Linked DNA regions of Homo sapiens. The protein of the gene in region 4 purifies or fractionates together with the protein of the main gene of each other region. This does not show direct contact. Each region holds a gene or a part of one and is shown on either strand. Other genes may lie near its edges.

Evidence for each region.
Region 1: the proteins of PGCKA1 (region 4) and STK25 purify together in Homo sapiens (affinity purification with mass spectrometry; 3 studies listed by BioGRID and IntAct, with this or other methods). This does not show direct contact.
Region 2: the proteins of PGCKA1 (region 4) and NFKB1 purify together in Homo sapiens (tandem affinity purification; one large-scale study listed by IntAct). This does not show direct contact.
Region 3: the proteins of PGCKA1 (region 4) and EEF1A2 purify together in Homo sapiens (affinity purification with mass spectrometry; 3 studies listed by BioGRID and IntAct, with this or other methods). This does not show direct contact.

What each region holds. Positions count from the first base shown.
Region 1 is NC_000002.12:241,501,290-241,509,534, forward strand, and holds the start of STK25 (serine/threonine-protein kinase 25), read right to left. Parts: upstream 7,296-8,245; 5' UTR 7,154-7,295; intron 7,057-7,153; exon of another isoform or gene 6,847-7,056; 5' UTR 6,747-6,846; coding exon 6,717-6,746; intron 420-6,716; coding exon 189-419; intron 1-188. UniProt on the Homo sapiens protein: Oxidant stress-activated serine/threonine kinase that may play a role in the response to environmental stress.
Region 2 is NC_000004.12:102,603,174-102,609,358, reverse strand, and holds part of NFKB1 (nuclear factor NF-kappa-B p105 subunit), read right to left. Parts: intron 2,864-6,185; coding exon 2,662-2,863; intron 2,210-2,661; coding exon 2,040-2,209; intron 1,711-2,039; coding exon 1,608-1,710; intron 1-1,607.
Region 3 is NC_000020.11:63,490,358-63,498,602, reverse strand, and holds part of EEF1A2 (elongation factor 1-alpha 2), read left to right. Parts: exon of another isoform or gene 1-321; intron 322-768; 5' UTR 769-839; coding exon 840-983; intron 984-2,567; coding exon 2,568-2,747; intron 2,748-3,501; coding exon 3,502-3,798; intron 3,799-5,315; coding exon 5,316-5,466; intron 5,467-7,867; coding exon 7,868-8,124; intron 8,125-8,245. UniProt on the Homo sapiens protein: Translation elongation factor that catalyzes the GTP-dependent binding of aminoacyl-tRNA (aa-tRNA) to the A-site of ribosomes during the elongation phase of protein synthesis.
Region 4 is NC_000004.12:37,580,625-37,588,869, forward strand, and holds part of PGCKA1 (PDCD10 and GCKIII kinases-associated protein 1), read left to right. Parts: intron 1-3,608; exon of another isoform or gene 3,609-3,764; intron 3,765-5,679; exon of another isoform or gene 5,680-8,221; 5' UTR 8,222-8,243; coding exon 8,244-8,245. UniProt on the Homo sapiens protein: Acts as a tumor suppressor. Acts as a tumor suppressor for colorectal cancer cell proliferation by targeting KEAP1/USP17/ELK1/CDK6 axis.

The DNA.
Region 1 (8,245 bases), on a different chromosome or scaffold from region 4:
GCCATTTAGAGCCAACTGACCCTCGTGGACGAGGGCTCACACCCTGCCTGCCCAGGGCAGTTTCCCGGAGGGCATGCACTGAACCGTCAAGACCGCCTTGCACCCTCTGGCATGTCACTCAGTCCCTCTGACATGGAAGAGAGCCGGGCACAGCACCAGCAGGGTCCCCGCCTCCCCACAACAGGCACCTTTAGGTAGGAGCCAAAGTAGCGGGTGATGTAGGGGCTGTCGCACTGACTGAGGACAGTGATCTCCTGCTGGATGTCCTCGATCTCATCCTCGGCCTCCTCCAGGTCGATGATCTTGATGGCCACCACCTCCTTTGTGTGGTTATCGATGCCCTTGTAGACCTCCCCAAACGAGCCCTTGCCAATGCGGTCGAGCTTGGTGAAGAGCTCCTCAGGGTCCACTCGAGAGTGCTGTGGGGCCAGGGCGGGGACAGAGGGCAGACAGCGCCGGTCACAAGAGGCGGGGGACAGGCAGAGGCTGCCCTGCTGGGGAGGAAGGGACCTGTAGGGAAGGGGGAGTCCAAGGGAGCGCACCTCAATTCTTCTCTGGTTTCTTCCTTTCTCCCTTTTTGTTCAAAAACTAAACTTGGCCGGGCGTGGTGGCTCACGCCTGTAATTCTAGCACTTTGGGAGGCCGAGGCAGGTGGATCACTTGAGGTCAGGAGTTCGAGACCAGCCTGGCCAGCATGGTGAAACCCCATCTCTAATACAAAAAAATTATCTGGGCGTGGCGGCTCATGCCTGTAATCCCAGCTACTCAGGAGGCTGAGGCAGGAGAATTGCTTGAACCCGGGAGGCGGAGGTTGCAGTGAGCCAAGACCGCACCATTGCACTCCAACCTGGGCAACAAGAATCAAACTCCATTAAAAAAACAAACAAACAAACAAATAACAACAACAAAAAAACCTAAACTGAACTTTCCATGCAAGGGAAAAAGTCCCCAGAAAGTATAAAGAGGCCAGGCCAACTCGATGAACCCTGCTGGAAACAGGAGCTTTAGGTGATGACACGGCATGAAGGTTGCCTCATCTAACCCGAACAACATGCCAGCCCCGTGACAGATGTTAATAGGTGAATGGCCCCTGGGGGTGAGGGGGGATTTGGGAGCTCTTACTTAATTTGTTATAAATCTGAAATTACTAAAAAATAAACTCATCAGGCCAGGCTTGGTGGTGCACACCTGAAATCCCAGCACTCTGGGAGGCCAAGGCGGGTTGATCACCTGAAGTCAGGAGTTCGCAACCAGCCTGACTAACATGGTAAAACCCCATCTCTACTGAATACAAAAAAAATTAGCCGGGCGAGGTTGCGTATGCCTGTGATCCGAGCTACTTGAGAGTCCAAGACAGAAGAATCACTTGAATCAGGGAAGCGGAGGTTGCGGTGAGCCGAGATCGCACCATCGCACTCCAGCCTGGGCAACAAGAGCGAAACTAGGTCTCAAAAAAATAAAAAATTTAAAAAAAAAAACCTCATCAAAAACAAAAAACCTCAGTATGTGTTAACCAAGTTCTCCTCCACTCCTGAAAGTCACGTATTTAGAAAGGGCTTCCCTCACCCCTCCATAAGTCCTCCTGACAGCTACACCAGCGCGGAGTTAGAAACTTGATGCTTTCTTGATGCAGAAAGCTGCCTCACACAGTCCTCAGATTTAAAGAAGCAATGCCTAAAAGTTTCTGAGCCAGTGGTGTGGAAGGTGCCTGGGGTCTGTGGCCCAGGCCCAGAGTCCAGGGGAAGCCAGCAGAGGTGTGTCCTCAAGCCTCGACCCTTTTTTAAATGTTTTTGAGATGGCTTCTCACTCTGTCACCCAGGCTGGAGTGTAGTGGTGCAATCTTGGCTCACTGCAACCTCTGCCTCCTGGGTTCAAGCGATTCTTCTGCCTCAGCCTCCCAAGTAGCTGGAATTACAGGCATGCACCACCACTCCCAGTTAATTTTTTGTATTTTTAGTAGAGATAAGGTTTCACCATGTTGGCCAGGCTGGTCTCGAACTCCTGACTTCAGGTGATCTGCCCATCTCAGCCTCCCAAAGTGCTGGGATTACAGGCGTGAGCCACCACGCACGGCCCCTCCCCTAACAACATCAAGGGTCTTGATGCCAATTTAGTGTGGCAGAGCATAAAAAGGCAAAACAGCCTGGGCGCGGTGGTTCACGCCTGTAATCCCAACACTTTGGGAGGCCGAGGCGGGCAGATCACGAGGTCAGGAGATCAAGACCACCCTGGCTAACATGGTGAAACCCCGTCTCTACTAAAAAATACAAAAAATTAGCCGGGTGTGGTGGTGGGCGCCTGCAGTCCCAGCTACTCGGGAGGCTGAGGCAGGATAATATCATGAACCCAGGAGGCGGAGATCGTGCCACTGCACTCCAGCCTGGGCGACAGAGCAAGACTCCGTCTCAAAAAAAAAAAAAAAAAAAAAGGCAAAACGACTAATTATGCCACAAAAAAAAACACTGAAGACAGGACAGGTCCTTGGGTGGGGGTGCCCTGCACGTTCCTGGGCCTGCGGAGACCGTGCCCACCAAGAAGGATGGGGTACACCACACACAGCCCTCACACTCACCCCCTGGACACCTGTGTGCTGGGTCCACCCCAGGCCTAAGCCCAGCGGAGGAGCTGGCTGAAGCCAACTGGACATCGCACCAGCCTGAGGCGACACTTCCGTGTGAAACTGCCAATTAGCTGACCTCCCAGGGTTCCTAACCAGGAGGGTGGAAGGGGCGGCACACAGGCCCCCACCTTGAAACATGCCGCTGCACATCCCTTTTTGAGTGCCAGACCTCGAGGTGACTGGAACTCTGGGGAAGGAAAGGCAGTTAGGGGAGGGCCAGAGGCCACCTAACCTTTCCCTGCAAGGCTGGCTTGTCAAGGCCCGGGGGTGTGCAGGTGGCCTCCATGCAGCAGCTAGAGCAGGCCAGCTGCAGTGTACACACAGACCCTTGCTTAGCCCAAAGGTCTGGCCAGTTGAGACAGCTGGTCGAGTCAAAAGTGACCTTTCTCATTCTCTCATCAGTACAGCAGCCCAGTCCTAAAGCCAGTACCCATGGAGGAAACAGCAGGGGGTGCCTTGAGCCCACCTGCTACCAGGAGTCCCCAAAGCCAAGGTCAAGAAACTCGGCAGGATAGAGAGAGCTGAGTACTGCCTGGGGTCATTCCGGTCAAGGTGAGCTGTGTCTGCCCCCAGCCCCATCACTGCTGCTGACCATGTGTTCTAAAGAGAAGCCAGGAAAAATTCAAAGCTGACAAGTCACAGGTGCTCAGCTGTCTCCGGGTTGAGGGTGGGTGGCACAGATGAGGTGAGAACCAGCCCCTATCTGAAAGGAAAGTCAACCCAGAACATGCAATCTTTTTTTGAGATGGGGGGTCTCGCTGTGTGCCCAGGCTGGTCTCCTCAGCCTCCTGAGTAGCTGGGCCCACAAGTGCATGTCAAAGCATAAGCTCATCAGCCCACTGGCTGTCATAGGTAAGCAGTCAGTGTTAAAATATCACCCTCCTGCCATAGAGAGCATCATCTCCGTTTCCTCCTCCCTGTTTGCTCCATTTCTGGTGGAGGACCACCCGTTCCTAGCCCAGTCCTGGATGCCAGGTGCAGGACAAGGTTAAGAAGCAGCCCCTCTTCTTTTTCTTTTTTTTTTTGAGATAGAGTCTCACTCTGTTGCCCAGGCTGGAGTGCAGTGGCGTGATCTCGGCTCACTGCAACCTCCGCCTCCCAGGTTCAAGCGATTCTTCCACCTCAGCCTCCCGAGTAGCCGGACTTACAGGCACCCGCCATCATGCCCCGTTAATTTTTTTTTTTTTTGAATTTTTGTAGAGACAGGGTTTCACCATGTTGGCCAGGCTAGTCTCGAACTCCTGACCTCAGGTGATCTGCAGAAGCAGCCCCTCTTCTGCCTGCTCCTCCTCCAGCAGGCCCAACGCCACCTTGTCAAATCCTCCCTGTTTGCTCAGCCCATCAACGCTTACTCGGGGCCCTGGGACGCTGCTCCACCGAGCCGTTAGCCTGTAGGCCTGGCCTCAGCCTCAACCCAACCCTGCCCAAGCACCCGGAAAGACCCCAAGGGAGTCCTCCTGGGGATTCCAGAGGTCTGTTGGTGCCCTGAGCTTGTGTCCTCCCATCTACTCCTGTCTAAGGTGGCCTGAGAGAGGGCCTGGAGAAAGCAGGGCCATGACCTGGCAGCATTACCCAGCACCACCACCCCTCCGACTCTTCAGGCCTCTCTGGATGACGCGTCCTCCCGCCCTGCTCTACTCCCTGCTCCCTGCTGAGGCCATGCTGCTCTCCACACAGGGCCTGGAGCTGAATCTGCTCCATCACAGCAGCCCCGGTAGGGAAACCCCTGGGTGGGCACTCAGACCTCTACTGCTTCACAGCAGGGGAGCACAGCGGACCCCTAAGCCAGAGCCAGGGCTCATCAGCCCAAGCAGAAACTGTGTGACAGGAACCCTCTTGGCTGTGATCCTGGCCCTACAATGACATCGCAGGCCAAGCCAAGGCAAGCCATCCCCACCCCCACCTGGAGAAGAAAGGGTAAGTGGGCCCCTGGCCTGGAGGCTGCGAATCCTCTTTTGGATGTAGCAGCAGCTGTGGCCTGGATGATCACTCGGGCCACTCAGCTGACTCGAGCGGTGGACACCTGTTCTCCACATTAGCCCTGGGGCTGCCAGGTCTGGGGCCTCCACTTGCCAATGTGTCTGCTGTCAGTGTTGCCCCACAAAACAAGGGGAATGACCCAGCACACATAGCTGAGTGGTGATACAGTGCTCTGGCACCCCACAGCCATTCGGGCCCTCCAGGGCCAGGCAGGAACTGGCCAGGTAGAGGGGAGAAGTCTAAGGCAGGAGCACAGGCTATGGGGGGAACGCGCCCCACTCTCCCACAAAGGGGCTGCCCCACAGGTCCACAGGACACCATGGCAACCATCTCAGGAGAAAACCACAGCCCCTCAGGTTTTCTGCCACTATATGAAGTCAAGTCTCTCATCATCCAGGCTGGGACAAAGGGATCCCTAAAAGGACAAAAGGAGCTTCCTACCTTTGGAATCCCTTCTCCAATGTGCCCGCACTCCCTTCCCTGTGTGCGATCGCACCAAGAACCAATAGCACACAGTTACAGGGCACCTCGGAGCTCCAATTTCTCATCCTGTGACCCAAAGGAGTTATTTCTGCAGTTCTTAAAAATAAACTGGTGGCCGAGCGCGGTGGCTCATGCCTGTAATCCCAGCACGTTGGGAGGCCAGGGCAAGCAGATCACCTGAGGTCAGGAGTTTGAGACCAGCCTGACCAACATGGTGAAACTCCGTCTCTACTAAAAATACAAAATTAGCTGGGCATGGTGGCGCATGCCTGTAATCCAAGCTACTTGGGAGGCCAAGACAGGAGAATCGCTTGTACTTGGGAGGCAGAGGGTGCAGTGAGCTGAGATTGCACCATTGCACTCCAACCTGGGCAACAAAAGCGAAACTCCGTCTCAAAAAAATAAAAATAAAGTAAAATAAACTGGTGGCAGATTTTTCTCCCAGCACCTTAGTCATGTAAGTTACCAGATACAGAATGCCAAAAGCAAACCAAAAATCTGTTAGCTTAATTCAGCAACAGTCAGCAAGCCCCAGTCTCATCTGTGACCACGCAGGTCCAGGTTGCCTGGCCCAACAGCTGCACATGGTGTTCCGGGTCTCTAGGCTGGTCCGGTTTCCTCCAAAGCAGCCCTGACTCCAGTTCCTGCCCCTACGCGAACAGACGCCCTTCCTGTTCCACTGCAGGCCCAACTCTCCATTCAGCACATAGGAGTGAACAAGGAGGGCCACACATTTTAGCGGCGATTCCAACGCCTTAGGTAGAGCCAAGGCATCAAGGAGAATAAAACCGAACAGCTAAGATGTAAGAAAACCCAGCGGCCAGAGTCAAAAAAGTGGGGAGGGGTAGAGAATGCAAGTCCCCAGGCCCCAGGTTGGCTGACCCCACCCTCCTTCCCCGGCAAGCCCTTTGGCACCAGCAGCTGGTCCTCATTCCAGGCTAAGGGCTCGCCGTAGTGGCTCCCTCCGAGGCTGTCCCACCAGACGCTTAAAGGTGGCTCCATAGTGGAAACGACTTCTTTAAAGAAGAAAGATGAGTCTCATGTTCGGGCAACCGCCCGTCGCAGGGGTTAAACGGTCCTGACAGAGCAGCCTTTTCACCCTCCCCTGGGCCAAAGCACACACGTGTTCTCTGCTTTCCCTGCACACCGGCCACTCAGATCTGCTTCTCCACAATCTCAGCCCCTCAGCGCCCGCCAGGGTCTCCCCTACAGCCCCTGCCCAGCCCAACACGGCCAGAATGACCCGCGGCCCAGGCCGAGGCCGCAGGGTGGCCCCCGACCTTCCACTGCCTTCGGATGCTGACATGAGGTTCCCGCCCCGCGCTGGGGGCAGCGCCCCGTCCCTGCGCCGGTGTCTCTTCACGCACCTCCACCGCCCTCGCACAGGCGGAGCCACCAGGGGCTCGGTTTCTAGAGGCCTGCGAGCTTCTGCCACGCAAAACGCCACAGGCACACGGCAGAGCCCCGGGGCCGCCCTGCGCCCACCTCAGGACGGCTCCGCTGGTCGCACGACGCGCGCTCCTTCCCTCACCCCACTGCCCGCTCCGGCGTGGCGCTCCCCTCTGAACCCCCAGGAGACTCTGGAGCCCCTCGGTGAGAGGCCGCTAGTCTTCCTGACCTGCACCCTTCTCACCTGGTTGGCAAATCCCCGGAGGTGAGCCATGGCCGCGCCGCCTCAGACCCTCCGCCAGCAGCCCCAGGAGGCGTCTGGATCCCGCGGAGAGGCGCGGAGCCGGCTAGCTCGCCCCTGCGGCGTCAGTCCACTGCGAGGGACACCAGGGGCGCTCGGTGCCCAGTTCAGTCATCTGAGACCGACCTCCGGGGCGGCGGGCTCCATGGGTGGGGGGGGGCCCAGGAGACCCCCCAGGCCGCCGGGGCCCCGCCACGCCCGGGCCTAACGCCCAGGCTCCCGGGGGCTCGCCGCCCCTCCCGTCGCCGCCCCCACCTCTTCCAAGGCAGCTTCCTCCCGGTGCCCCCGCCCCGGTGTCCCCGCCACCGAGCCCCGCCCCGGGCCCCTCCCTCTGCCCCCTCCCCAATCGCCGCAAGCGCCCCGCCCGGCAGCGCGCCCACCTCCGCGGGGCTCCATCCCGGCCTCCCCCGGCCCGCTCTGCAGCGCCCGCGAAGGCTCCCACCCGCAGCCTCTGTTCGCCCGGGGACCCCGGGCCTCCCAGCCCGCGAAGCAACGGTGGTGGCGGCAGCGACCGGAGAAAGCCCGGAGGCGACGGCGAGGGCGGTGCTCGGCGTCGCGGCCCGCGCACGGCTCTCTGGGACCCCGAGTCCCACCGCCCACTCCGGGCCCGGAAGCCTGCTGGCGTTGGACTACAAGTCCCGGCAGGCTGCGCGAGAGGGGGCCGGGGCTCGCATGCGCGCCGCGAGGCTCTCTGGGACCCCTAGTCCTGCTCCCGAAAGGTTTGGACTGCGTCTCCCGGCAGGCCGCGCGCCTGGGCGGGCGGGGCACGTGGTCGTTGTCGCGTCGCGCCCTCCCTGCCTCGCCCTCGCGGGTCTTCTGCGTTTGCTGGCGCCTGCCAGGCGTCGTCTCCGACGTTACGGCGGCCGCGCGGCCCTCTCCCTTGGGCTCTGCCCTGCGCAGCCCTGGTTCGAGCGGGCCAGTGAGGCCCGGCGCCCTCCCCGCCTCGCCACGAGGATCCACCGCGGCCGCCCAGGCTTCTAGCCTTGTCGTCACGGCACGGAGATAAGCCCGCGCTGGCCACATCGCGAAGCCCCTGTTCGTACTGAGACCCCGCCCGGGATCACGCGCACAGGCCAGGGCGCACCAGGCCTTGGAGAAGCTACCGGCACAGCCCATTCCTTGGGCGAGTTGCTTCGCCTCTCCTGCCTCAGTTTCCTTACCTGTCAAGGGGTGGTCATAGGACGTCCTTGGTCACACCGTTGTGGGACCCACCTGGGCTAGAGCGCGGGACGCGCCCAGGACAGTGACTGCTGCTGGAAGCCGTCATGGCACTCCCCAGGGTCCGGGAGGGACTTGCAGATCCCAAGGCTACCTGGTGCGTCCCCGTGCCCCGTGGGCCGCCAGGTCATAGTGCCCCCTGTGTGCATTCCCCTAGTGCACCGCAGGGATCCCCACCTGTCCGGTGAGGAAGATTTGTCCCTCCTGCATACTGTGTCCACCCTTACAGGCCCTCACTCTCCATGATGGCTCAG
Region 2 (6,185 bases), about 65 Mb from region 4:
ATTACAGGTGTGAGCCACCACACTCGGACTTAACTGACCTTTTCCACGACATTAAGATTAGGACTTGGTTTTTCATCTGAGTTTCTTCATTTATATATCAGAGAAACTGTTACTTGCTTTTCCTTTCATGGGATTCTGAGAATTCAATATAAAGCATTTTTAAAAGGGTTATAGTTTCTTTCTTTTTCTTTTTTTTTTTTGAGACAGGGTCTTATTCTTATTCTATAGCTCAGGCTGGAGTGCAGTGGTGAAACTGTAGCTCACTGCACCCTTGAACTCACAGGCTCAAGTGATACTTCTACCTCGGCCTCCAAACTAGCTGCGACTATAGGCGCATGCCACCATGCCTGGCTACTTTTTAAATTTTTTAATGGAGATGAGGTCTTACAATGTTAACCTGGTTGGTCTCACACTCCTAGTGCAAGTGACCCTCCCACCTCAGCCTCTCAAAGTGCTGAGTTTACAGGTGTGAGCCATCACGTCTGGCTGGTTATAGCTTCTTGTTGGAAGGCATTTAATTAATCAGTGTCTTCTAAAACTATTAATACCCACTGCAATCAGAGTTTCTTGTTCAAGAAAAAGTTCTATTTAACAAAAGAGAAAAGAAAAATATGGTGTCCCAAAGAAAAAGTTCCTATGTCTTTTGCTTTGTTTTCTTGAATTTATGAAGCATTTACCTTTTAAGTTAAAAAAAAAAAAAGCCTCTAAAGTATATCAGATATGTCAGGGCAGGCTTCAGATGCCAATTTCATTACACATATTTTGAGGTTCTAAATATGCAAGGCACTGGAGATTCAAAGATCAGCATGGATAATTTTCTATACTTCACAGGACTAGAGAATTAAATGGAATAACATCTGCAAACCTATGAGCAAAATAGGAGAGAGAAACATAGTACAGAGAATAAAGTCTTGAAGTTCACACTGCCGAAGTGTGATTCATAGCTCTGTCACTTACTGGAACCCTGAAGTGGGATCTGGTAGTCTCTCTAGTCTGTTTCCTTGACTCTAAGATGGGGAATAATGGTATTTGTCACAAGGGGTGATTGGGCATTAAATGAGACTGTGCACATAAAGTGCATATCACAGTGCCTGGTACACAGAAAGGTCAATAAGTGCTAGCCATTTTTAGTGCCTTCCACATAATGGGTCTTAATACATGGCCCATTTTCTTTTTCCTACACTTCAATTTCTAAGAGATATTTCTTTCAAAATGAAGTCTTTAAATGATTTCTTATACCAATAATCTTTTTCTTCTGGGGCCTTCTGATATGATCTGAGACTAATACCACTCAGAATTCTATAAGGAATCAAACTCTACTTTGAAAAGACCCTTTGTCATGGGAGTCAATCTAAACAATCAAACCCCAAACAAACAGATGAATCAGAAAGTAAAAACTAAAATGACTATCAGGGTAAAGCCCAAGATTACTAGTCCAAACAGTGCCTTATGGCAGATAAAATGTGATTTGCCATATAATTTTTATTTACCCTTGTTTTTCAGCAGTAGGTCTGTGGCTTAAAGAAGGCAACATGACTGCTCTATTGAAGTTGGGTTTGCATTCCTGGTAACATTTTTCATTAATGACCGCCAGATCACCATCTTACCTGCTGCTTTGAGAAGAGCTGCCAGCCTGGTGGACCCTCTCCCAGCTGCTATATGCAGGGGTGTGGTTCCATCGTAGGTAGTACTGTCCACATGGGCATCACCCTACAATCCAGCCCACACAAGAAAGCGTTAGTGGAAGGTTCTTTTGCCCTTTTGTCCCCACCTCCCAGTGTGCATGGCTCCTTGGGTCCTATTACTAGCCCAATTGCTACTTTGGGCTGGCTCTGTCATTGAAGAAATCCCCAGTTAGAGATGCCAAGCAAGGGGGTTGGGGGAATGTCTAAAGGTGGTACTCTGAAGCCCTCCATAAATGTTAAACAAATAGAGCTGATTGTAAGGGAGAACAGCAGCTACTGACTTCCTTCTTTGAAAAGATTTCCTTAAATCTCCCTCAGAAATTTAATGCAAAAGCAAATAAGTGTGCCCTTCACCTCCAGGAGCAGGCAGCCTGCCAATGAGATGTTGTCGTGCTCCACAGCCAGGTGCAGTGCTGTGCGCCCGGACTTCTGCTCCTGAGCATTGACGTCAGCCCCAGCGGCCACCAGCAGCAGCAAACATGGCAGGCTATTGCTCATCATGGCTAGATGAATGGCATTCAGACCTAGAGTCCAAGCAAAGGGACAGTCACAGGATGGGATGGCTAACTCACAAGATGGCCCTTGTGAAGCTGAAGGAAATGGCAAAAACTGAATCATGGGGAGGGACAGTAAAGATACTATAAGTCTATTGTTCTGCTTTGAAGACCCACAGTCTCCTATTATGTTCTCAGGAGACATGAACATAAATAAACATTCTCTGAATAAACGACGCTTTGTGTACTTCAAGATGAATCTTTACTCAGGCCTCTGCTTTCTCCTCCTACTAACTATTCCAAATCATCTTTAAAAAAATTAGCTTTGGTGAGCAACAGAAATGCCCAAAAGAGATGATGAACTCCAGGTGACTAAGGAAAGCACTTTTGGGTGCAAATCAAATAACACACGTTTATCAAATACCTAGTAGATATTTAGAAGGTGGAGAAAGTTACACCAATGATGTGTGATTGTCTCTTACCGTCCCCGTTGGGGTGGTCAAGAAGTAGTGCTGCCTTTTTGTGCTTGAGTAAGATACTGAGAACTTTATCATGTCCTTCTTTGGCAGCTAGGTGCAAAACAGAGTTACCCAAGCGGTCCAGAAGGCTCAGGTCGGCCCCAGCCCTCAGCAAATCCTCCACCACATCTTCCTGCTTAGTGATCACTGCCAAGTGCAAGGGCGTCTGGAAAGTGAAAGGGCAGGAGATTCACTGGTCAGCAGTGAATACTTACTTACAACTCACAGCTTGGTAGCTGTTACTGCAATAGGTGGGGCCATACTGCAGGAATATTTCTCATTCCCAGATTAACTTCTGACCTTGGCACCCAAGTTATCCTGTTCCATACTATATGCTAATGAAGTACATATACTGTACTAACACTTAGCCATTCAATAATTCATGTTTTAAAATTCTTATTTATCTTAAATTTAATTGACAAATAGTAATTGTATATATTTATGAGGTACAATGTGATGTTTTAATCTAAGTTTACAACATAAAATGATTAAATCAGGCTAAGTTACAAATCCATCACTTCATATACTTACAATTTTTTCTGTGGTGGGTTATTTTCATATTTACAAGTCTTAATAGCTTCTTGTTTCTCACTACAACCCACTGATTGTTGATTTTGAGCACACCTAGTAGTAAATTTAGTTTTCTTAAATATCTGGTAGGAGTTACCTCCAGCTGATAATTTTATATTAACAAATCAAATTAAGGCTATGTTTTCACTGAAGAAATTTAAATAAAGTACTCAATAGAAACCAATTAACAAAAGTGCCATGATTCTATGCTGACATGGAAACTAAATTTACTAAATTAAAAAATACTGTCCCATGGACTGGCTCCTGAGACCAGTCAATATAGCTTTCCTACACCCATTTCATAAAAGGTATTATAAGATTCTAAATAACATAACCAGGATAATACAAGTATCTCACCAAGGGGGCTCAGCTGAATAAAAAAGGTGAGCTGCTGATACCTAATAGGTACTTAAATAGTCCATTTGACTATCCTGCCCACAAGGTATTACTTCGGTGAATGCAAATAAGATGTTTTGCAAACTGTGTGTTTTCAAAAATGAGTAAGACAAATACAATCACAAACGTATCTTTCAAATAACTGAGTTCACTGACAGAGAACAGCAATGTATCTTTATACAAATCAGTTTATTTCACAGGAGCCTAACTATGACATCCAGCCAGTCTTGTGACAATTTGCCTAAAATTCCCTTTTCATTGAGCAGTTACTGGCTACAGCAGCAGGTGAGCCACCAACCTCCTAGCTGTGTAGGTGACCACAGCACATGATAACTGGCAGGATGAATGATGGGAGGGTAGTCTAAATCTCAACTACAGTGATTATTTACTATACAAGACCCTTTTTTTTTGCCAAATTATTACTTGCCCTTATTTCTTTCATTTTCTAGGACTATCAACCTGGCCTGAAATGAAGTGATGTCCTCAAAACTTTAGATATTGTTGCCAAGAGCCTTCTTCTCAAAAATAAGTCAATGGAAACTGTGTTTACTAATCTGTGTTTTCTGAAATGCTACTTGGGGAGATGGGAAAAGGAAAGAGAATGAGATTGTGAAAAAAGGATCTGAAATTATAAGATAGTATACCATTCAGGAATTATAAATTATCTGTAGCTTGAATTTAATTAAAAAATATCTTATGAGTCGGAGAGGTTTTTTTTTTTTAATATTTTCTTCCACAGTCCAATCAATGGTTTTCCATGATATAAACCTTCTAGTTCTTAAATCCAAGGATTATATCTTAAACAATTATACCTTCATGCTATGGCTGTGGGCATGGGGACTTACACAGACATTCTGGAAAGCCAAATATACAAATGTCCCAGCAACCCAACTCTTGCAGATGTATCTGGGTGAAATTCTGACACAAATCCACAAGAGGACATAAGTGAGGACAGTCACTGCAGTATTATCTACTGAGGTAGGAAGTTAGAAGTTGGTTAAATGTCTACTACTAGGAAACAAGGATGTTATAGGTGAAAGACCCATACTAGATTCTCTTCAGGAGCTGAAACAACAAACTAGCTATATGTAGAACTGTGTGGATAAGCAGTGAAGGCAGAAATACAGTAACATGTAGCACAATGCCACTTAGGCATTTAAAAAATATATGCACAAAGAACTATACAGATACACACAAGTGTGTGTAAAACTGGTGAAATCTGATTAAGATCTGTGGATTGTATCAACGTCTATTTCCAGGTTTTGACACTGTTCTGAGGTTATGCAGGATGTTACCATTGGGGGAAACTGGGTGAAGAGACCTCTGGTTTCCTTGCAGTAAATACTAGGACTTCCTAGTACGTTTTTGTAACCTCCTTTGAATCTATAATTAAATTAAATTAAAAAAATTTTAAAGGTTAATGCAAGGCAAGAGAAGTACATTTAATATAATGTGGATTGTATGTGAGAGTATATGAAAATATCTATGTATTTCAAGTATACGTACATTTGTATCCAGTACTTGAAAAACTACCTATAAACACAATAGTGACATTTGTGCTAGCAGACCTGGGCATTGTCAGGGTGGGCAACTTTGACTTTCCAATGTAGATTCTTCTGTACCATTTTTAAAACTATGAATATACATGATATGTATAATAATTAAAAACATAAAAATACATAAAACCCTCCAATAATGTTTTATGGGAACATACACAAATAAAACAATCCATACCAAACACGATAGAGTGGTTGTCTATGTTGGGGGAAGGAGAATGAAAGGAGAAAAAGGCTTAAAGAGAATATTTTCATAAAAAATCCTAACTCGGTGCACTTGGACTATTTTGAGTGTGTTTCTAGAGGGTGGGTGGGGAGAGGAATTTGATCATGACAGATGGTCACAGAAATGTACTTAGATTAGTGAAAGGTATTTGGGAAGAATGCTTAACTGTCAAATAATCCAAATTATTTAGAGAACTGTATCATTTTCCATTAAGAATAGTTACTAGAGAACCTTTACAACAGATAATCAAGAGTTCAAATCTTAGCAGTTTCTAATTCTCAAATCAAAGTTGCCATTGGGTGTGTGTTTGACACCTAGAAGGCATACTAGGGAAGCCAGAATCACTGCCCATTAATCAGACTGGTGGTAAGGTAGGGGAAAAATGGACGTATAGTCTTCTGAGAGTCCCCAAATCAGAAGGGATAGAAGTATCAATGGTGGCGGTTTCAGGGTTTTTGTCTCTAACACACTGGAGAGTCTCAACATATGTAACCAAATGATACAGTAAAGAGTTTAGGATATAAAAAAAAAATCATAGCTACTGGCCAGACGCAGTGGCTCATGCCTGTAATCCCAGCACTTTGGGAGGCCGAGGCTGGCAGATTACGAGATCAGGAGTTCAAGACCAGCCAGACCAACATGGTGAAACCCCATCTCTACTAAAAATACAAAAATTAGCTGGGTGTGGTGGTGCACGCCTGTAATCCCAGCTACTCAGGAGGCTGAGGCAGAAGAATCGC
Region 3 (8,245 bases), on a different chromosome or scaffold from region 4:
TGACCCAGGGTCCTGAGTCACAGGGAGGGGGGGAGGGAGGGTGCCCCCTATACCCCCACGGGGCCGAGGGCATCTCCACCTGGCACTTGCTGGGCTCGGCAGGGCCGGGTCCTCCTTCCTCAGGCTGGAACAGGGACCCCCACCTCCCGGCCGCTGTCTGTCCCTGTGAGAGTCCGGGAGGGGGGTGCCTAGAGCTATTCTGGGTTCCTAATCTGGGCAGCGCATCTCCGTCGGGGCTCTGGCCCAGCCTGCCGGGCAGGGATGAGGGGAAGATGGCGCCGTCCCTGCCTGAGGAGGGGAGTGGGGAGCAGTGGCCATCTCTCCCCGGTGGCAGCGGGTGGGGGTGGGGCGCCGTGTCCCTGGCCCTGCCGCCGGGGAGGGGAGTGCGCGTGCAGGACAGGGCCCTGGAGCGCTGGGCAGGTGACTCATCACCCGGCTCTGCTGGTCACGGACGTACCCAGCCTGGCGCTGCGTGGTCTCTCCAAATGGTGGCTAACCCCTTCCCAAGGAGCAGCCCGCGGGCTCCAACGCCCAGTTATTTACAGCAGATGGGGCTGTTTGGGCTCAAGTGTGGGGTGGGGGCAGTGCACAGCCTCTGCTTGCCCTGGCCAGGCCCAGCTGTGGGTGGGGGCCCTTCCCTCCCCACCAAACATGGGGGCTTGGTTTGTGGGCAGGGATGCCTGTCCAGCCTGTGCCAGGACAGTCTCTGCTGGTGTCTCCCCCTGGGGCTCCCCATCACCGGTCTCCCCACCACCACTGGCCCCACAGAATCACTGCAGCCCCCCTCGCCCTGAGCCAGAGCACCCCGGGTCCCGCCAGCCCCTCACACTCCCAGCAAAATGGGCAAGGAGAAGACCCACATCAACATCGTGGTCATCGGCCACGTGGACTCCGGAAAGTCCACCACCACGGGCCACCTCATCTACAAATGCGGAGGTATTGACAAAAGGACCATTGAGAAGTTCGAGAAGGAGGCGGCTGAGGTGAGCTCCCCAGGCTATGGTCTTGGCCCCCTGAGAAGGAACCCCCAACTCCCGTGGTGGCCAGGCTTGGCATCTCCCAGCCCCAGGGCATGGGGCTCAGGTGACCTCCTCCAGGGCAGGAGGGACCCCCGCTGTGGGGCACTCAGGCCTCAGAGGGTCTGGTGGGGCAGCCTCTCTCTTAGGGGGAGCTTGGTGGGGGAGGGGTGGCCATCGAGCTGCCGGACTTGCCCTGTGGTGAGGGAGGTGACCTGGGAGGGTCTGCAGAAGGCTCTGGAACTCTGCCATGTTGAGCTGGGGCTGGAGGGCGCTGGAGCCTTACCCCCTTCCCCCCAGGGCCAAGGCTGGGGCTGGAGATGGTACTGCCCTCACTTGTCCTAGGGCCCTGCCAGGGCACACGCTACTATTAATAGCTGATTGATGGGCAGCCGGCCCGTCTGCTCCATTTTCTTGTGCTGGGCTGTGGAGGGCTGCTGTCCAGGGCAGCCCTGGGGTGGGGGTCCTGGATGAGGTGACCTCCTAGCTGACCTTTTGAAGCGATTTCTCTTTGGTGGCTGAGACGGTGGTGGGGAGCGGTCATGAGACGGGGTCTGCTCTCTGATCCCCATCCCCCACCCAGGACTCTGGGGAGAAGCCCACTCCTGGGAGGGCCTGTGGGAGCTCTCACCTGGATGATGAGGGCGGAGGCCAGGGCCCAAGGTGGGGGCACTCGCTGTCCTGGGCTGAGCCTCTGCCCTGGCGGGGTTGGGGGTGCTCTGAGCTGCACCCCTGAGTTTGGGCTGCATCACCCTTTACCTGGCCTTGTCAGGAGGAGGCGGGGGTTTCAGAGGGCCGCTGTTTCAGGCCCCAGCTGGGTCCCATCTGGGTCTGCTCCAGACTGGGCAGCCTCCTGGAGGGCAGAGTCCTGTCTGTGCGAGGCCCTGGCGAGGAGTTCTGCCCAGCTGGGTAGTGACCGCCGCTGCTGCCCTGACTGAAGCCCGTCCCCTTCTGTGGGGGTCTCACTGGCCGAGGCCCCCCAGCTTCCCGTGTCCGGCAGAGCGAGGAAGGGGAGGAGAAGCCTCAGAGGGATGGGGAGGCTGGAGCAGCGGGAAGGAGCTGCGTGGCCAGGCCCTCCTCCTGACCTCATTCAGTTTTCCTTTCTCCTTACCTTAAAAAAACACACACACACAGAGGGTTATTTATCTGACAGCCCCAAACACGGTGGTATTATTGGCCTCTGGTTGAGGAAGGGATCTGGGGGCGTCCGCAGCTTCAGATAAAGGGGAGCCCTCGCCCGGGAGGGGTTTATCCCATCTGGCGGCTTCGCTCGTAGAGCGAGCGACTCCCAGGCCCTTGCGCCACCTGCTGGTGGACCTGCGTAGCCGCGCCCATTTCGGAGCAGGTGCGGAGGCCGGCCCTGGGGGGCAGGGTCTGGGTGTGGGGTCCCGACGGAGGGGGCCGGCGTCCCAGGACCCCGACGGAGAGCAAGGGGGTGCTGGAGCCCATCTCCCGCCTCTCGCGGCCACTCTGCTGTAACAAGCAGCTCGCACCACCAGGGACTCCTGGGTCCCGGGTCCCGCCCTCAGCCGTGACCCTCACCCGCTCCAGATGGGGAAGGGATCCTTCAAGTATGCCTGGGTGCTGGACAAGCTGAAGGCGGAGCGTGAGCGCGGCATCACCATCGACATCTCCCTCTGGAAGTTCGAGACCACCAAGTACTACATCACCATCATCGATGCCCCCGGCCACCGCGACTTCATCAAGAACATGATCACGGGTACATCCCAGGTGAGCAGGGCACAGCAGGCGGGGCTGGGGGAGAGGCCGCTGCACCCTTCAAGGGACACTGGGGGCCCCTGGGGTCACTGGGATGGTAGGGTCTCCTGTGCTTCCTGTGAGGGCAGGGGACCCCTCACCTGGGCCACCCTCACCCAGTCTGGCTCAGAGCCCCCCTAAGGATGAATCCAGTGCTCTGGCATCTGAACCAGTGCCTGTGAAGGCATCCAGCCAGTGTCAGAGTCCCCAGATAGATGGGGGCAGATGGGGACGTGGACACACCTTCATACATGGAGGGGTTGGAGGCCAGGATGGGGAGAGTGAGCAGTGGGCAGAGGTGCCACCCGCCAGGTGTAGACTGTATGACATTTCAGGGCACTCACAGAGACGCACGGACACCCCAGACACAGCACCCTGCAGACAGCAGGACACATGCCACCACCTCCAAACTGCTTTGATAACTGTGACTTCTATCCGTCCTCAAGTGAGGAACAGGAGCAGATAGGCTGAGTGACTTGTCCAGGGACACACAGCCCACTGGTGGTGGAGCCAGGGCTGAACCTCGGTCCCCTGACCCAGGGCCTGGCGATGAGCCCCCATGCTGCCCTTGAAGTGGGGACCCCCATGCCTCCCTCCCCAAGGCCCCAGTGGGCTGCTCAGGCCCCAGCCCGCTGCCTGGAGAGGCCTGGAAGTGAGGTGGGGCCAGGCTCGCTCTGTCCCCTGCCAGGCAGGCGGGGCAGGGCTCACTGTGTCCCCTGCCGGGCAGGCGGACTGCGCAGTGCTGATCGTGGCGGCGGGCGTGGGCGAGTTCGAGGCGGGCATCTCCAAGAATGGGCAGACGCGGGAGCATGCCCTGCTGGCCTACACGCTGGGTGTGAAGCAGCTCATCGTGGGCGTGAACAAAATGGACTCCACAGAGCCGGCCTACAGCGAGAAGCGCTACGACGAGATCGTCAAGGAAGTCAGCGCCTACATCAAGAAGATCGGCTACAACCCGGCCACCGTGCCCTTTGTGCCCATCTCCGGCTGGCACGGTGACAACATGCTGGAGCCCTCCCCCAACGTGAGTGGCGGCTAGGGCGGGGCGGGCCACGGGAGCTGGCTGGACCCCCTGGCCCAGAGCGAGGCACCGGCAGGTGGCACGGGGAGGTCGAGGGCCTGTCCCCGGGAAATGCAGGTTCCCCTCGAAACCTGCTGGGTTTCCCTAACTGGCTCAGGGCCCGGCGGGGAGCCCCATGCCCCTCAGCACCGGGCTTTGCTCCTACACTCAGCCTCCCACGCGGCTGGCCGGGGCCAGGGCCCATCTACGATGTCAACACAGCAGGGGCAGCGGCCTCCAGCACCAGGCCCATGTGCTTGGTCTCCAGAGCCCTGCCATGGGGGCGGTCGGTTTCATCTCTGCCAGGCCATTGTCCTGGTCCTGGACACCGTGCAGGGGCTTTGGGCTGGGCCGTGGGGGCCTCCTTGGCTGCCTCCCCTGGGATCTTGGAGCAGGGTTGGGCTTTGGGAAGTGTGCATGCTTCTGGGCTTGCTGGGATGGCCAAGGGTTGGCTCTTGGCCGGTCACCTGGGAGCTCAACGTGCGAACAGTCTGTAGCCCAGGGACTCTGCCTTGGCTGGAGGTGACGCGTGGAGACACTTGCAGAACCTGAGACTGTTCCCAGGGTTCTCCAAGCCAGAGGAGACCCCAGAATGGCCACCACTAGGCTCTGCCAGCACTGTCGCTGCCCACAGTGAGGGTGCAGGTGTGGAGTCTAGAGACAGCAGGGAGACAGACCAGCAGCACTGAGCCTGGAGCTGAGGTCTGGGGACAGAACTGGGAGGGACTCCCCCAGCTCCGCCTCCATCTCACGAGGCTCGGTGTTGTTTACCTGTGATGGCGTTTTCCTCATGGGGTATCATGTGGCGAACGCCACTCTCCCCTCCCCAGGGAGGCCTCCAGCCATCAGGGACCCTGCACTCCCCTCTGGCCTGAGCTGCTAGGTGGCTCGTGCTTACACAGGCCCTGGGGGGCTGGGGCACTGTGCTGCCGGCCCCCTCCCCTGCTCCCTGTTTGTGGCAGGTGGCCCAGAGGGAGGCTTCATGGGATGGGAGTGGGGGCCACACTAGGAGAAGCTCCGGACAAGGCTGGGCCAAGCTCGGAGGCAGCACGGTGTCCAGAAGCTAGGGTGGGGCGAGGCTCCTCCAGCTCTGTCCCTGGCCTGGCCCTTGGCCAGACTCAGCATCCTCCTAGTCAAGTCATCTGCCCTGCCTGGAGCTGATGGTCAGGGGCCCGGGGTTTCGGGGACTTGGGGCTGGACTGGGGATTTGTTCACAGTGTCAGCAACTCCTGAGCAGCCTGGGCTGGGAAGGGTGCTTTCCCTCTTTGTCCTCCTCCTTTTAAGAGGGATCTCCTTCCCAGAGTCCCTGTGATGCTGGGGCTATGGGCTGGGGAGGAGCAGGGTGGGGAAATTCCTCATCTCAAAGGGCACGAGGCAAGTTTAGCCTGAACAGCAGTACTCCTGGAAGCACCCTGGGGAGGCCTGAGGGTGGGGAGGCCACCAATGTCTCTTAACGGATTGATTTTCTCCCTTTGGTCCAGATGCCGTGGTTCAAGGGCTGGAAGGTGGAGCGTAAGGAGGGCAACGCAAGCGGCGTGTCCCTGCTGGAGGCCCTGGACACCATCCTGCCCCCCACGCGCCCCACGGACAAGCCCCTGCGCCTGCCGCTGCAGGACGTGTACAAGATTGGCGGTGAGCAAGGGCGCTGTGCTGGAGCTCCTGCCTGGCCAGCTCTGCCTGCCCTAGACCAGGGGCCCCTACAAGGCATCTCAAGACTGGGCTGTCTCCAATCTCTCCCCTTACCACACACTTTCTGTGGGACAGTCCATCCCACATCCATCCATCCATCCACCCACCTCCCCACCCATCCATCCTCTGTCCATCCATCCACCCATCCATCTATCCACCTCTCCATCCATCTATCTATCCATCCATCCATCCATCGATCCATCCATCTCCCCACCCATCCATCCTTCACTCCATCCATCCATCCATCCATTGTCCCATCCATCCTTCTCTCTATCGAACCATCCCTCCATCTCTCCATCTATCCACCTCCCCACCCATCCATCCTTCTGTCCATCAATCCATCCATCCATCCATCCATCCACCTCTCCATCCATCCATCCATCTCCCCACCCATCCATCCTTCTCTCTATCCATCCATCCATCCATCCATCCATTGATTGTCCCACCCATCCATCCTTCTCTCTATCCCTCCATCCATCCATCCATGCATCCATCCATCCATTGTCCCACCCATCCATCCTTCTCTCTATCCATCCATCCATCCTTCCATCCATCCATCCACCTCCCCACCCATCCATCCTTCTGTCCATCCATCCATCCATCCATCTCTCCATCCATCCATCCATCCATCCATTGTCTCAACCATCCATCCTTCTCTCTATCCATCCATCCATCCATCCATCCATCTACCCACCCATCCATCCTTCTCTCTATCCATCCATCTATTGACCCACCCATCCATCCTTCTATCTATCCATCCATCCATTCATCCACTCACCCACCTACCCACCCATCCATCCTTCTGTACATCCATCCATCCATCCATCCACCCACCTACCTATCCATCCATCCTTCCATCCATCCATTTATCCATCCATCCATCCATCCATCTATCCACCCACCTACCCACCCATACATCCATCCATCCACCTCCCCATCCATCCACTTCCCCATCCATCCATCCATCCATCCATCTCCCCATCCACCCATCCACCTCTCTATCCATCCATCTCCCCACCCAGCCATCCTTCCCTCCATCATCCATCCATCCATCTCATCCATCCGTTCATCTCCTCATCCATCCATCCATCCATCCATCCATCCATCCATCCATCCATCCACCTCCCCATCCGTCCGTCCATCCATCCATCCATCCATCTATCCCCCCATCCATCCATCCATCCATCCATCCATCCATCCATCTATCCATCCACCTCCCCATCCATCCATTCATCCACCCACCTTCCTACCCATCCATCCTTCTGTCCATCCACTCATCTACCTCCTCATCCATCCATCCATCCATCCATCCACCAATCCATCCATCCATCTCCCTACTCATCCATCTCCCCACCCATCCTTCTGTCCATCCACCTCCCCATCCATCTACCACCCCATTCATACATCCATCCATCCATCCACCCACCTCCCCATCCATCCGTCCATCCATCCATCCATCCCACCAAGAAGAGAAACCATAAACAAATCTGAGACCCTAGAGAAGGGCACTGATAGGAGACCCCCAGCCAGTGGGCTGCAGCCAAAGATGTTGCAGGCATCTCTGTGTGCACTGTGGGGGCATCATGCTCACCCCAGCACAGAGCACAGCCACTGGCCTCAGTGAAGTTGGCTGGAGGCTACAACAGGCCTCCCTCACAGCCCTGGGAGGTGAGGGTGGAGACCCAGTAGCCTGGGGGGGGACAAGACCCCCATGTGGCAGCTGCACAATTGGTTTAAGTAGATCCATGAGAAATGCCAGGGACGCTCATGTGCCGCTGTGCCTGTGCTGCATCTGGCTGAGAGGCCCCTTTAGTGATAGAGACCTGCAGCATCCAAGTGGGGCCCAGAGAGCCTGCAGGGAGCAGGGAGCAGGGCCTGCAGGGAGCAGGGAGCAGGGCCACCAGGCCCCAGGCAGAAGCAGTCAGTCGCCCCGCCCACACTCACAGGGAGGAGTCCTCAGACAAAGGAGGGGTCCCATAGTGCCTCCTTTGAGGGAAAGTGCTCTCCGGGGGCAAGGATGGGACCCCAGGTTCAGACAGCCCCTCTCTGCCCATCCTCCCGCTTCTCTGTCCCTGTGGCTTTTCCGTGGGTTCCTGGGAGCTCTGCTGCTCAGCCTCTTATTTCCCCAGCTGGGTGGGAGAGCCCCCACTTCCCTTGGAATCTCTGTGTCTGCCCTTGTCCCTGGCCTCCCTTCCCCTGCACTCCGCCCATGTGGCCCCAACCCCCAGGCCTGTCGGGGGGATCCAGTCCCAGGCTTTGTTGGTTTCCAGGCTCTGTCCCCGAATATCCTGCCCCAGCATCCCCTCGGGCCCCACCTTCCCCTCACACCCCCTCCCCTCTGCAGGCATTGGCACGGTGCCCGTGGGCCGGGTGGAGACCGGCATCCTGCGGCCGGGCATGGTGGTGACCTTTGCGCCAGTGAACATCACCACTGAGGTGAAGTCAGTGGAGATGCACCACGAGGCTCTGAGCGAAGCTCTGCCCGGCGACAACGTCGGCTTCAATGTGAAGAACGTGTCGGTGAAGGACATCCGGCGGGGCAACGTGTGTGGGGACAGCAAGTCTGACCCGCCGCAGGAGGCTGCTCAGTTCACCTCCCAGGTGGGGGGCTGCGCTGGGTCCAGGGGGCTGGCGCCTGCTGGACAGCAGCAGGACTGTCCTGGGTGAGGCTGCTGTCGGCAGGTGGCCTGGCGTGGGGAGAAAACCAGACCCTCAGGCTGGG
Region 4 (8,245 bases):
ACTGAGCCACCTGAAGCTGGGGATAGGGTGACACAAGCACCCTTGTGGCCATGATCACTAGGACTGTGCTGGGTCAGACCTGAAGCCAACACAGCACTGGATCTTACCCAGGGCCCTCTGTAACCACTAGCTAGCTAGCTCCAATGTTTGCTCAAGGCCCTAAGGCTCTACAATCAACAGGTGCAAAGCCAGCCAGGCTTGTGTCCTTCCCTTCAGGGTGACAAGATACCCCAGGCCCTAAGTGGGAGCTAGGGACTGAAGTCAAAATCCTTAGAGATCTACCTGGTGCTCTATTCTACTGGGGCTGAGCTGTCACTCAAACCATAAGACAAGGCCATTTCCATTCTTCCCTCCCCTTTTCCCAGGCAAAGGATCCTCTTCCTATCACCATTACTACCACAGGCCCACAGAGAGTATTGCCAGGCTACTGCCGATGTTCACTTAAGGCCCAAGGGCTCCTCAGACAGTTTATAGTAAGTTCTGCCAGGCCTAGGACACATCCTTCAGGGCAGTGGACTTGCCTGTGGTCAAGTGCAAATCCAGAAATGCCATCCAAGAGCCAAGGCCTTGAATTAGGGACTCCAAGAGCTCGCTTGGTGCTCTACCCCACTGTGGCTGAGCTGGTACCTAAAGTGCAAGACAAAGTCCACTTTACTTTTCCCTCTGCTTTTCTCAAGTAGAAGTAGTCTCTCCCCATAGCCACCACAGCTAGGAATGTGCTGGGTCTCACCTGAAACCAGCACATCTCAGAGTCTCACCCAAGGCCCATAGCGTACTACCTGGGTATTCCTGCTGGTTATTCAGGGCCCAAGGGCTCTCCACTCAGCAGGTGATGGGTCTTGCCAGGACTTGGTCCTTCCTTTCAAGGAAGTGCAGTCCCTTCTGGCCCAGGGTGTGTCTATAAATGTCATCTAGGAGCTGGGGCCTGGAATGGGGGCCTCATGACTCTGCCTGGTGCCCTATGCTAATGTGGCTGAGCTGGTATCCTATGGTGTAAGACAAAGTCCTCTTTACTCTTCCCTGTCTTTTCCTCAAGCACAAGGAAGGGGTCACTTTCATTGCTGTGAGCTGTGCTGCCTGGGTTTTGGGACACGTGACACAGGTTCTCCCTTAGCCACTCTGGTGTCTCAGTAGATCAGGTGCCCCCCCAGGTCCACTGGCTCTGGCCCCAGCACAGTACTGATATCTTGCCTAGGAACCACAGTTCTTGTGGCCTAGGCTACCCTTCAAGTGTATTAGGATTGCAGAGCACTTTAGTCCATGGTGGTGCGGCTTGCCAAAACTCAAGTTCCAACAACTGGAATATATAATTTCCCTCTGGCTAGATCTGGTCCAAATGCTCCCTCTGTGTGTGGGTAGGCTGGGGGGTCGTGGCTTAGCTGATTTCAGCCTGGTTTTGCTTTCTGCTCTGATAGGGCAGCACTGAGTTCAAACGCAAAGTCCCCAAATCACTGTACTCTCCCTCCCCCAAACACACAGATGCTCTCTCCACGACATGCAGCCACTGCCAAGGAATGGGCAGCGGCAGTTCAAGATTGTCTTTCCTACTACCCTCTTTAGTGCCTCTTTCAGCAATATGAAGTTAAAACCAGGTACACTGATTGTGTACCTGATTTTTGGTTCTTATAAAGGTGCTTGTTGGTGTAGATGATAGTTGTTAAATTTGGTGTTCCTGTGGGGCAATGAAGTGAACATCAGTGGAGGCTTCTATCTGGCCATCTTGTTCTGCCCTTCCCCAAGAGCATTCTCTTATATAACCCCAGTACAATGTTCAAAAGCAGGTAATTCACATCAATTTAATACGATTACCTAATCTACAGACCTTATTCAGATTTTACCAATTATGTCAATAACGACCTTTTAGCAAGAAGGACATGCAGTGCATCGGCTGTCATGTCTCTTAAATCTCCTTGAATTTGGAAGCATTCTTCTGTCTTTCTTTGCTTTTTCATAACATTACATTATTTTAAGAGTACAGGCCAGTTGCTTTGCAGACTATCCCTCGTTGTTTCAACTCAGAGTATGCTCTTTTGTCAGGAAATCACAGAAGTGAGGCTAAGTTCTCAGTGCATCCTATCAGGAGCCACATGCCATTGATTAGTCTCATTATGGCACTATTACCTTTGATTACTTGGTTAAGGCGCTGTATGCCGGGTTTCTCCAACGTAAGGATAATATTTTGTCCTTAATCATATGGGGGGGAGCTACTTTAAGACTAAATATCCTGTCCTCCTCAAAATTTCACCCACTAGTCCTACCATCCATTGATACTTCTTACTGACATCAATTATTATTATGATGGCTATCAAATGGTTTTTCTATTATTATGATGGCTATCAAATGATTTTTCTAGTTCCAGTATTTCTCGTATGTTTGTTAGCTGGTTTCCTACTTGTAAGGTAGAGTGTTCCCTTTCCCTTTATGTATCTTAGTGTGGACTCATAAGTCCTTGTTTTATTCAATTGGCTACAAATGCTGTAGATTAGTAATTATTTTAATATTCCAGTTGTTCCACATTTGGCCAGTAAAACTTCTACAAGTGGATTCCTGTGTCCTTTTAAAATGTCCCTGTCATTCTTCAAAGCTATCACTATTTAAAGGCAGCTTCCAGATGGGTTGAGTCTTTTCCTATATGCCCTTGACTTCCTAATGAATACTCAGTTAATTTCTCTGCCTGGCTGGAGAACTCCTGGGCTTCCCTGGACTTCGCCCTTCCCCTACCTCCATTGCTACCCTCCCAGCAAGGAGGCTTCACCAATGACTGACATGGCATTAGCATGGCCTTCTTTTTTTATTGTTTGTTTGTTTTTGTTTTTGTTTTTTTTTTTTTGAGACGGAATCTCGCTCTGTCGCCCAGGCTGGAGTGCAGTGGTGCGATCTCGGCTCACTGCAAGCTCCGCCTCCCAGGTTCACGCCATTCTCCTGCCTCAGCCTCCCGAGTAGCTGGGACTACAGGCGCCCACCACCACGCCCAGCTAATTTTTTTTTATTTTTAGTGGAGACGGGGTTTCACCGTATTAGCCAGGATGGTCTCGATCTCCTGACCTCGTGATAGCCTGGCCTTGTTTAAACACAAAACAGAGTCAGCCCCCAACACAGGGCTGCAGAAGCAGGCGGCAGCAGCATTGGGTGGACACAGCCATCCTAATGGTGTTTGTTTTTCCCCTGTGTAAACTAAGAAGTGGTTGTGAAGGATTTTCCCTTTGTTGCCTGTTGCTTTTTTATGCTCCAAAGAGGAAGCAAATTTTGATTTTGCTCAGTAATAAAGGGTACCCAACAACTGAATTCTTACCTTTAAGCTAGCTGTTGCCAAAAGGGAGGCAAGGAAGACAGCTGATAGACTGCTCATTTTGAACCCAATCTTACGTCAAAAGAGCATATTTTTTTCATTGCTGTGTGTCACATGCTAGACCCGGAGCATTTCCTTGTTGCCCCTGGGCTTAGGAGAAGTCCTTGCTAAATGCAAGATGTAGAAGTGGGAGTGACATATGAAAAAAGAAATGAATTAAATTTGATATGACACATCATATAAGGAAGAATAATTGTAGACACAGGCATGCAGGGGTTGGGTGTGAGTACATTAGTCCCCACCCTTTTCGTCAGCAGTCACACAACCTTGGACATTAGAGCCTGTCCGTCTGATCTAGAGAAGGAATGTTGCTGGGGAAGGAAAACTCAGGGCGAGGTGAGAGAGGACAGAACCTCTAACCAGGAAGAGGCTGTCCCCGCCAAGCTCCGGAGAGGCGCGGAAGCATGACCCTCAGGTATGGGACCAGGTCTATAGGAAACCCATGTGGTGTGCCCTAATGGGAGGCAAGCCGGGGAGGACCCAAACTGGAAACCTGATTCTGAAAGAGGAAAACCACCACAACATCCTTTGTAATTGTGCAGCTTGGAAGAACAGTATAGATCCTGTGGTTTTCCTGGGGAAGGAGGGGAGCCTAAAAGCCGCAAATGATGTATATTTCCTTCAGAAGCAGGGAAGGGGCAGTTTTCGAGTACGGCTGTTAAATCTCAGCACTCACTTCATTCGGTGCAGGCTGCTCCTGTGGTCTTGGCTATAGCAGCAGAAGGCGGGGATGGAGGGTGCCCCAGGGTCAATCTTGGTCAGCCTCCGAGGAGCTGGGAGTGCAAGGTGTCACTCTGGATGTGCCTGCCTGCTTTTCCTCGCCTTCTTGCCCTCCTTCGCCTTTCCTCCCTCTTTTCTTTCCTCCTTTCTTTCGCCTTCCCCTGTACACCTCTTGAATTCACCATCATAAAGTTGACCTGAGATGTTTCAATGAGTAATGTTTTATGATTGCTTCAGTTACATTATTACAATCCAGTCTGCCTTCCTTGTTTCTCAAACAGTTCTAAGCTCTTTTCTCCTTTTCTTTGACTTGTTTTTTTTTTTTTTTTTACTACCTATCCTCCTGACTAGTTGTTGTTGTTTGTTGGTTGGTTTGCTTTTAAAGAGTCCAGGATAAACAAAGTATTGCAGGCATGAAAAGGGTCAGGATTTCAGAGCGAATTGTGGAGGGGGAGGGTCAGGAGGGGAGGGGAGAGGAGGGGAGAGGAGAGGGGAGGGTGGAGGAGAGGTATTGAGGGAGGGGAGGGGAGAGGAGAGGTATTGAGGGAGGGGAGGGGAGAGGAGAGGTATTGAGGGAGGGGAGGGGAGAGGAGAGGTGTTGAGGGAGAGGAGGGGAGATCAGAGGTGTTGAGGGAGAGGAGGGGAGAGGAGAGGTGTTGAGGGAGGGGAGGGGAGAGGAGAGGTGTTGAGGGAGGGGAGGGGAGAGGAGAGGTGTTGAGGGAGGGGAGGGTAGAGGAGAGGTATTGAGGGAGGGGAGGGGAGAGGAGAGGTGTTGAGGGAGGGGAGGGTAGAGGAGAGGTATTGAGGGAGGGGAGGGGAGAGGAGAAATGTTGAGGGAGGGGAGGGGAGAGGAGAGGTGTTGAGGAAGGAGAGGGGAGAGGAGAGGTGTTGAGGGAGGGGAGGGGAGAGGAGAGGTGTTGAGGAAGGAGAGGGGTGAGGAGAGGTGTTGAGGGAGGGGAGGAGGTGCACGTGCTTCTTCTCGCCTGTCCTATTTATCCAGCTCATCTATGAATTATCAGCAGAAAAGGAAAGTAAAGGAGGAGTAGAGGCTGGGAATAAAATCCTGGGCTTTAGAAATGGGGTAGTTTAAGAGTATTCTGAAAGGTACAATGTTACACATGTGTACACAGTTCCATAGCAAAAGCGATTTTTCTGTCTACGGGACTGTTGTTGTACTTGGGGTTTTCTATCTTTCAATTGGTGTCACAGTTGATAGAAATATACCATGTAGCCCTTATTCCAGAAACAAGTCCTACTTGACATTGTTAATACTCTTGTTTGTATGCATAGGTTCTGGCAACTAGATTATATCTTTCTTGGATACTAGACCTCCATCTTTTTCTTTTTGGGGGGTGTGTTTTAATATGCTGTATCCAAATGGGGTGGTTAAGACACCCCTGGTCTATGTTTATTATGAATGTTTGCTCATATGACCCCCAGCAACACTATATAGTAGGAATATTATTATCCCCATCTACAGGCCAAGTGACTGAGGCCCAAAGTCCCACAGTAGCAGGGTTTTCTGTCTCCTGAGCCCACCCTCATAACACCTGGGCGACACGGCTGGCACAAACTGGAAATGTCTTGATTGGTTGCAGACACACAACAGGTTCACTGATAGTGCTCTCGTTTTTAATCCATAGCCATTAAATCATTCATTCATTCCACATTTATTGACTGCCTGCTCTGTACCAGGTGCTGTCCTAAGTGCTGAGAATTAGACTTGAAGAAGGGTGGAGCACGGTAAGGAAAGAGGGTGGCAAGAGATGCACGGCTGGTCCGAGGGACTCTTCTACATTCCATGAGTCCTCCCAGGAAGAGTTGGAAGGACAAGGGGTTTGGTCCTCAAGCATGAAGTGATTTGGGGATGTTACTAGTTTTCTGTGCTGCTGCAGCAAATTACTACGAACTTAGAGGTTTAAAAAAATGGAAGCAGCCGGGCATGGTGGCTCACGCCTGTAATCCCAGCACTTTCAGAGGCCAAGGTGGATGGATCACCTGAGGTCAGGAGTTCAAGACCAGCCTGGCCAGCATGGTGAAACCTCATCTCTACTAAAAATATAAAAGTTAGCTGGGCGTGTTGGCAGGCACCTGTAATCCCAGCTACTGGGGAGGCTGAGGCAGGAGAATCACTTGAACCAGGGAGGCAGAGGTTGCAGCGAGCCGAGATTGTGCCATTGCACTCCAGCCTGGGCAACAGAGTGAGGCTCTGTCTCAAAAAAACAAACAAAACAAAACAAAACAATGGAAGTTTATTCTCTCCCAGTTCTAGAGACCAGAAGTCTGAAATTGGTATCAGTGGGCTTGATCCAGGGGTGGGTATCAGGGATCAAGGTGTCACCGGGGCCACACTCTTTCCAGAGGCTCCAGGGGTGAATCTGTTCCTTCCCTCTTCCAGCTTGGGGGGCTGCCAGTACTCTTGGTTTGTGACCTCCTTGCTCCAATCTCTGCCTTTTTGGTCACATTGCCTCTTCCTCTTCTGTCTATAATCAAATGTCCCTCCACCTCCTTCTCATAAGCATTTATTTAATTGTATTTAGAGTCCACCCAGATAAACTAGGCAAATTGTACCATCTGAAAATCCTACACTTAATCACATCTGCAAATACCTTTAATTTGGGGGCTGGGGTGGCATATAAGGTATTATTTATAGGTTCCAGGGATTAGGATGTGGATATCTTTGGGGGCCATTTTTCAGCCTACCATAGGGAGTTATTTGTGGATTTTATTTTTTTAATGTAAATCTAGTCCCTTTTAACTAAGCAACCAATCTGTACTTCTTAAAAAGCACCAGTCATATTCACTGTGGACAAAAGCTTATGAAGCAGCATCCCTGGAAATTCACCTATGATTGAAAGAAGGAAGGAGGGACAACATGGGAGACAGAGACACAGCCAGCAATGAATGATGTCTCTTTCTGGTGCATGTGCTTCATGGAGACAGGGAGACTGGGGATGCAGATTCTGTTTTGGCTTGTCTTTTTAAAGGCTGTAGGCCCGTCACAGTGGCTCATGCCTGTAATCCCAGACCTTTGAGAGGCCAAGGCAGGCAGATCACTTGAGGTCAGGAGTTTGAGACCAGCATGGCCAACGTGGCAAAACCCTGTCTCTACTAAAAATACAAAGATTAGCCAGGCATGGTGGCACCCGCCTGTAAACCCAGCTACTTGGGAGGCTGAGGCAGGAGAATCGCTTGAACCTGGGAGGCAGAGGTTGCAGTGAGCCGAGATTGCGCCACTGCACTCCAGCCTGGGCGACAGAGTGAGACTGTGTCTCAAAAAAAAATAATAAATAAAAATAAAGGCTGTAGATATTAGAAATGAATAATATCTAAGAGATGCTTCCATACTCATTTTTAGGATGTTCTGAGGAAGGAAGAGGCCAACATGGTCAGTTTTATATGAAGAGAAGATTTTGTTCCAAAGGAAATGATGGGGAAAAGCCCAGCTTGGGGAGGGGTCAGGGAACAGTGGGCAAGTGGGAAATGAGTCCACCTTCTGCCAGGAAGCCCAAGGGGGCATGTCTTTGAGCTGCAAAAGAACAGGTCCACAAATCATAGCTGAGATTGGCCCAGCGGTAGGAAAAGCAACACAGAATCAATTTAGTGTGGTTGAAGCTTGTGCGATGACTCGGGCTATCACGCTCCTCAGGGCCTGAATCATGGGACACAATGGATCCGCCAGCTTATTCCGGCATCCTTTAACTCTTGAGGAGCAAATGCCCTGGCAAGGAATCCGTCAGAATCTCCTTCCCCTCCTGCTGCTGCGTGCAGTGGGCCGTGCCCTGGTGAGGTTCCTGTGTCCTCTGTAGAAGGTAACAGATTAGAAAAGCAGAAGTCCCTTCTCTGTCTAGCATCCTTCCACCTTCTTCTCCTCATCTGCAAAATGGGGATGAAACACATAACCCCAGGGTTGGGAGAAAGGTCTGACACAGAGGCAAGTGTCAGTGAACGTTTGAGAACTCTGAAGCGGTGATGGAAATGGGGTATTCCTGGTAACCAGCACCCTCTCTGACCCACGTGGTAGTTATCCTTTTGCCAAAATGTGTGACTCTCTTAATACATTTTGAGTCTCTAGGGAAAAAAAAAGGCAAACTTAATTCCTACTAATATATCACTCACTGTGTTCTCTACCTTTTACGCTTTCTTTTCCAGGTGGTAACAGAAAACAATCCAGAT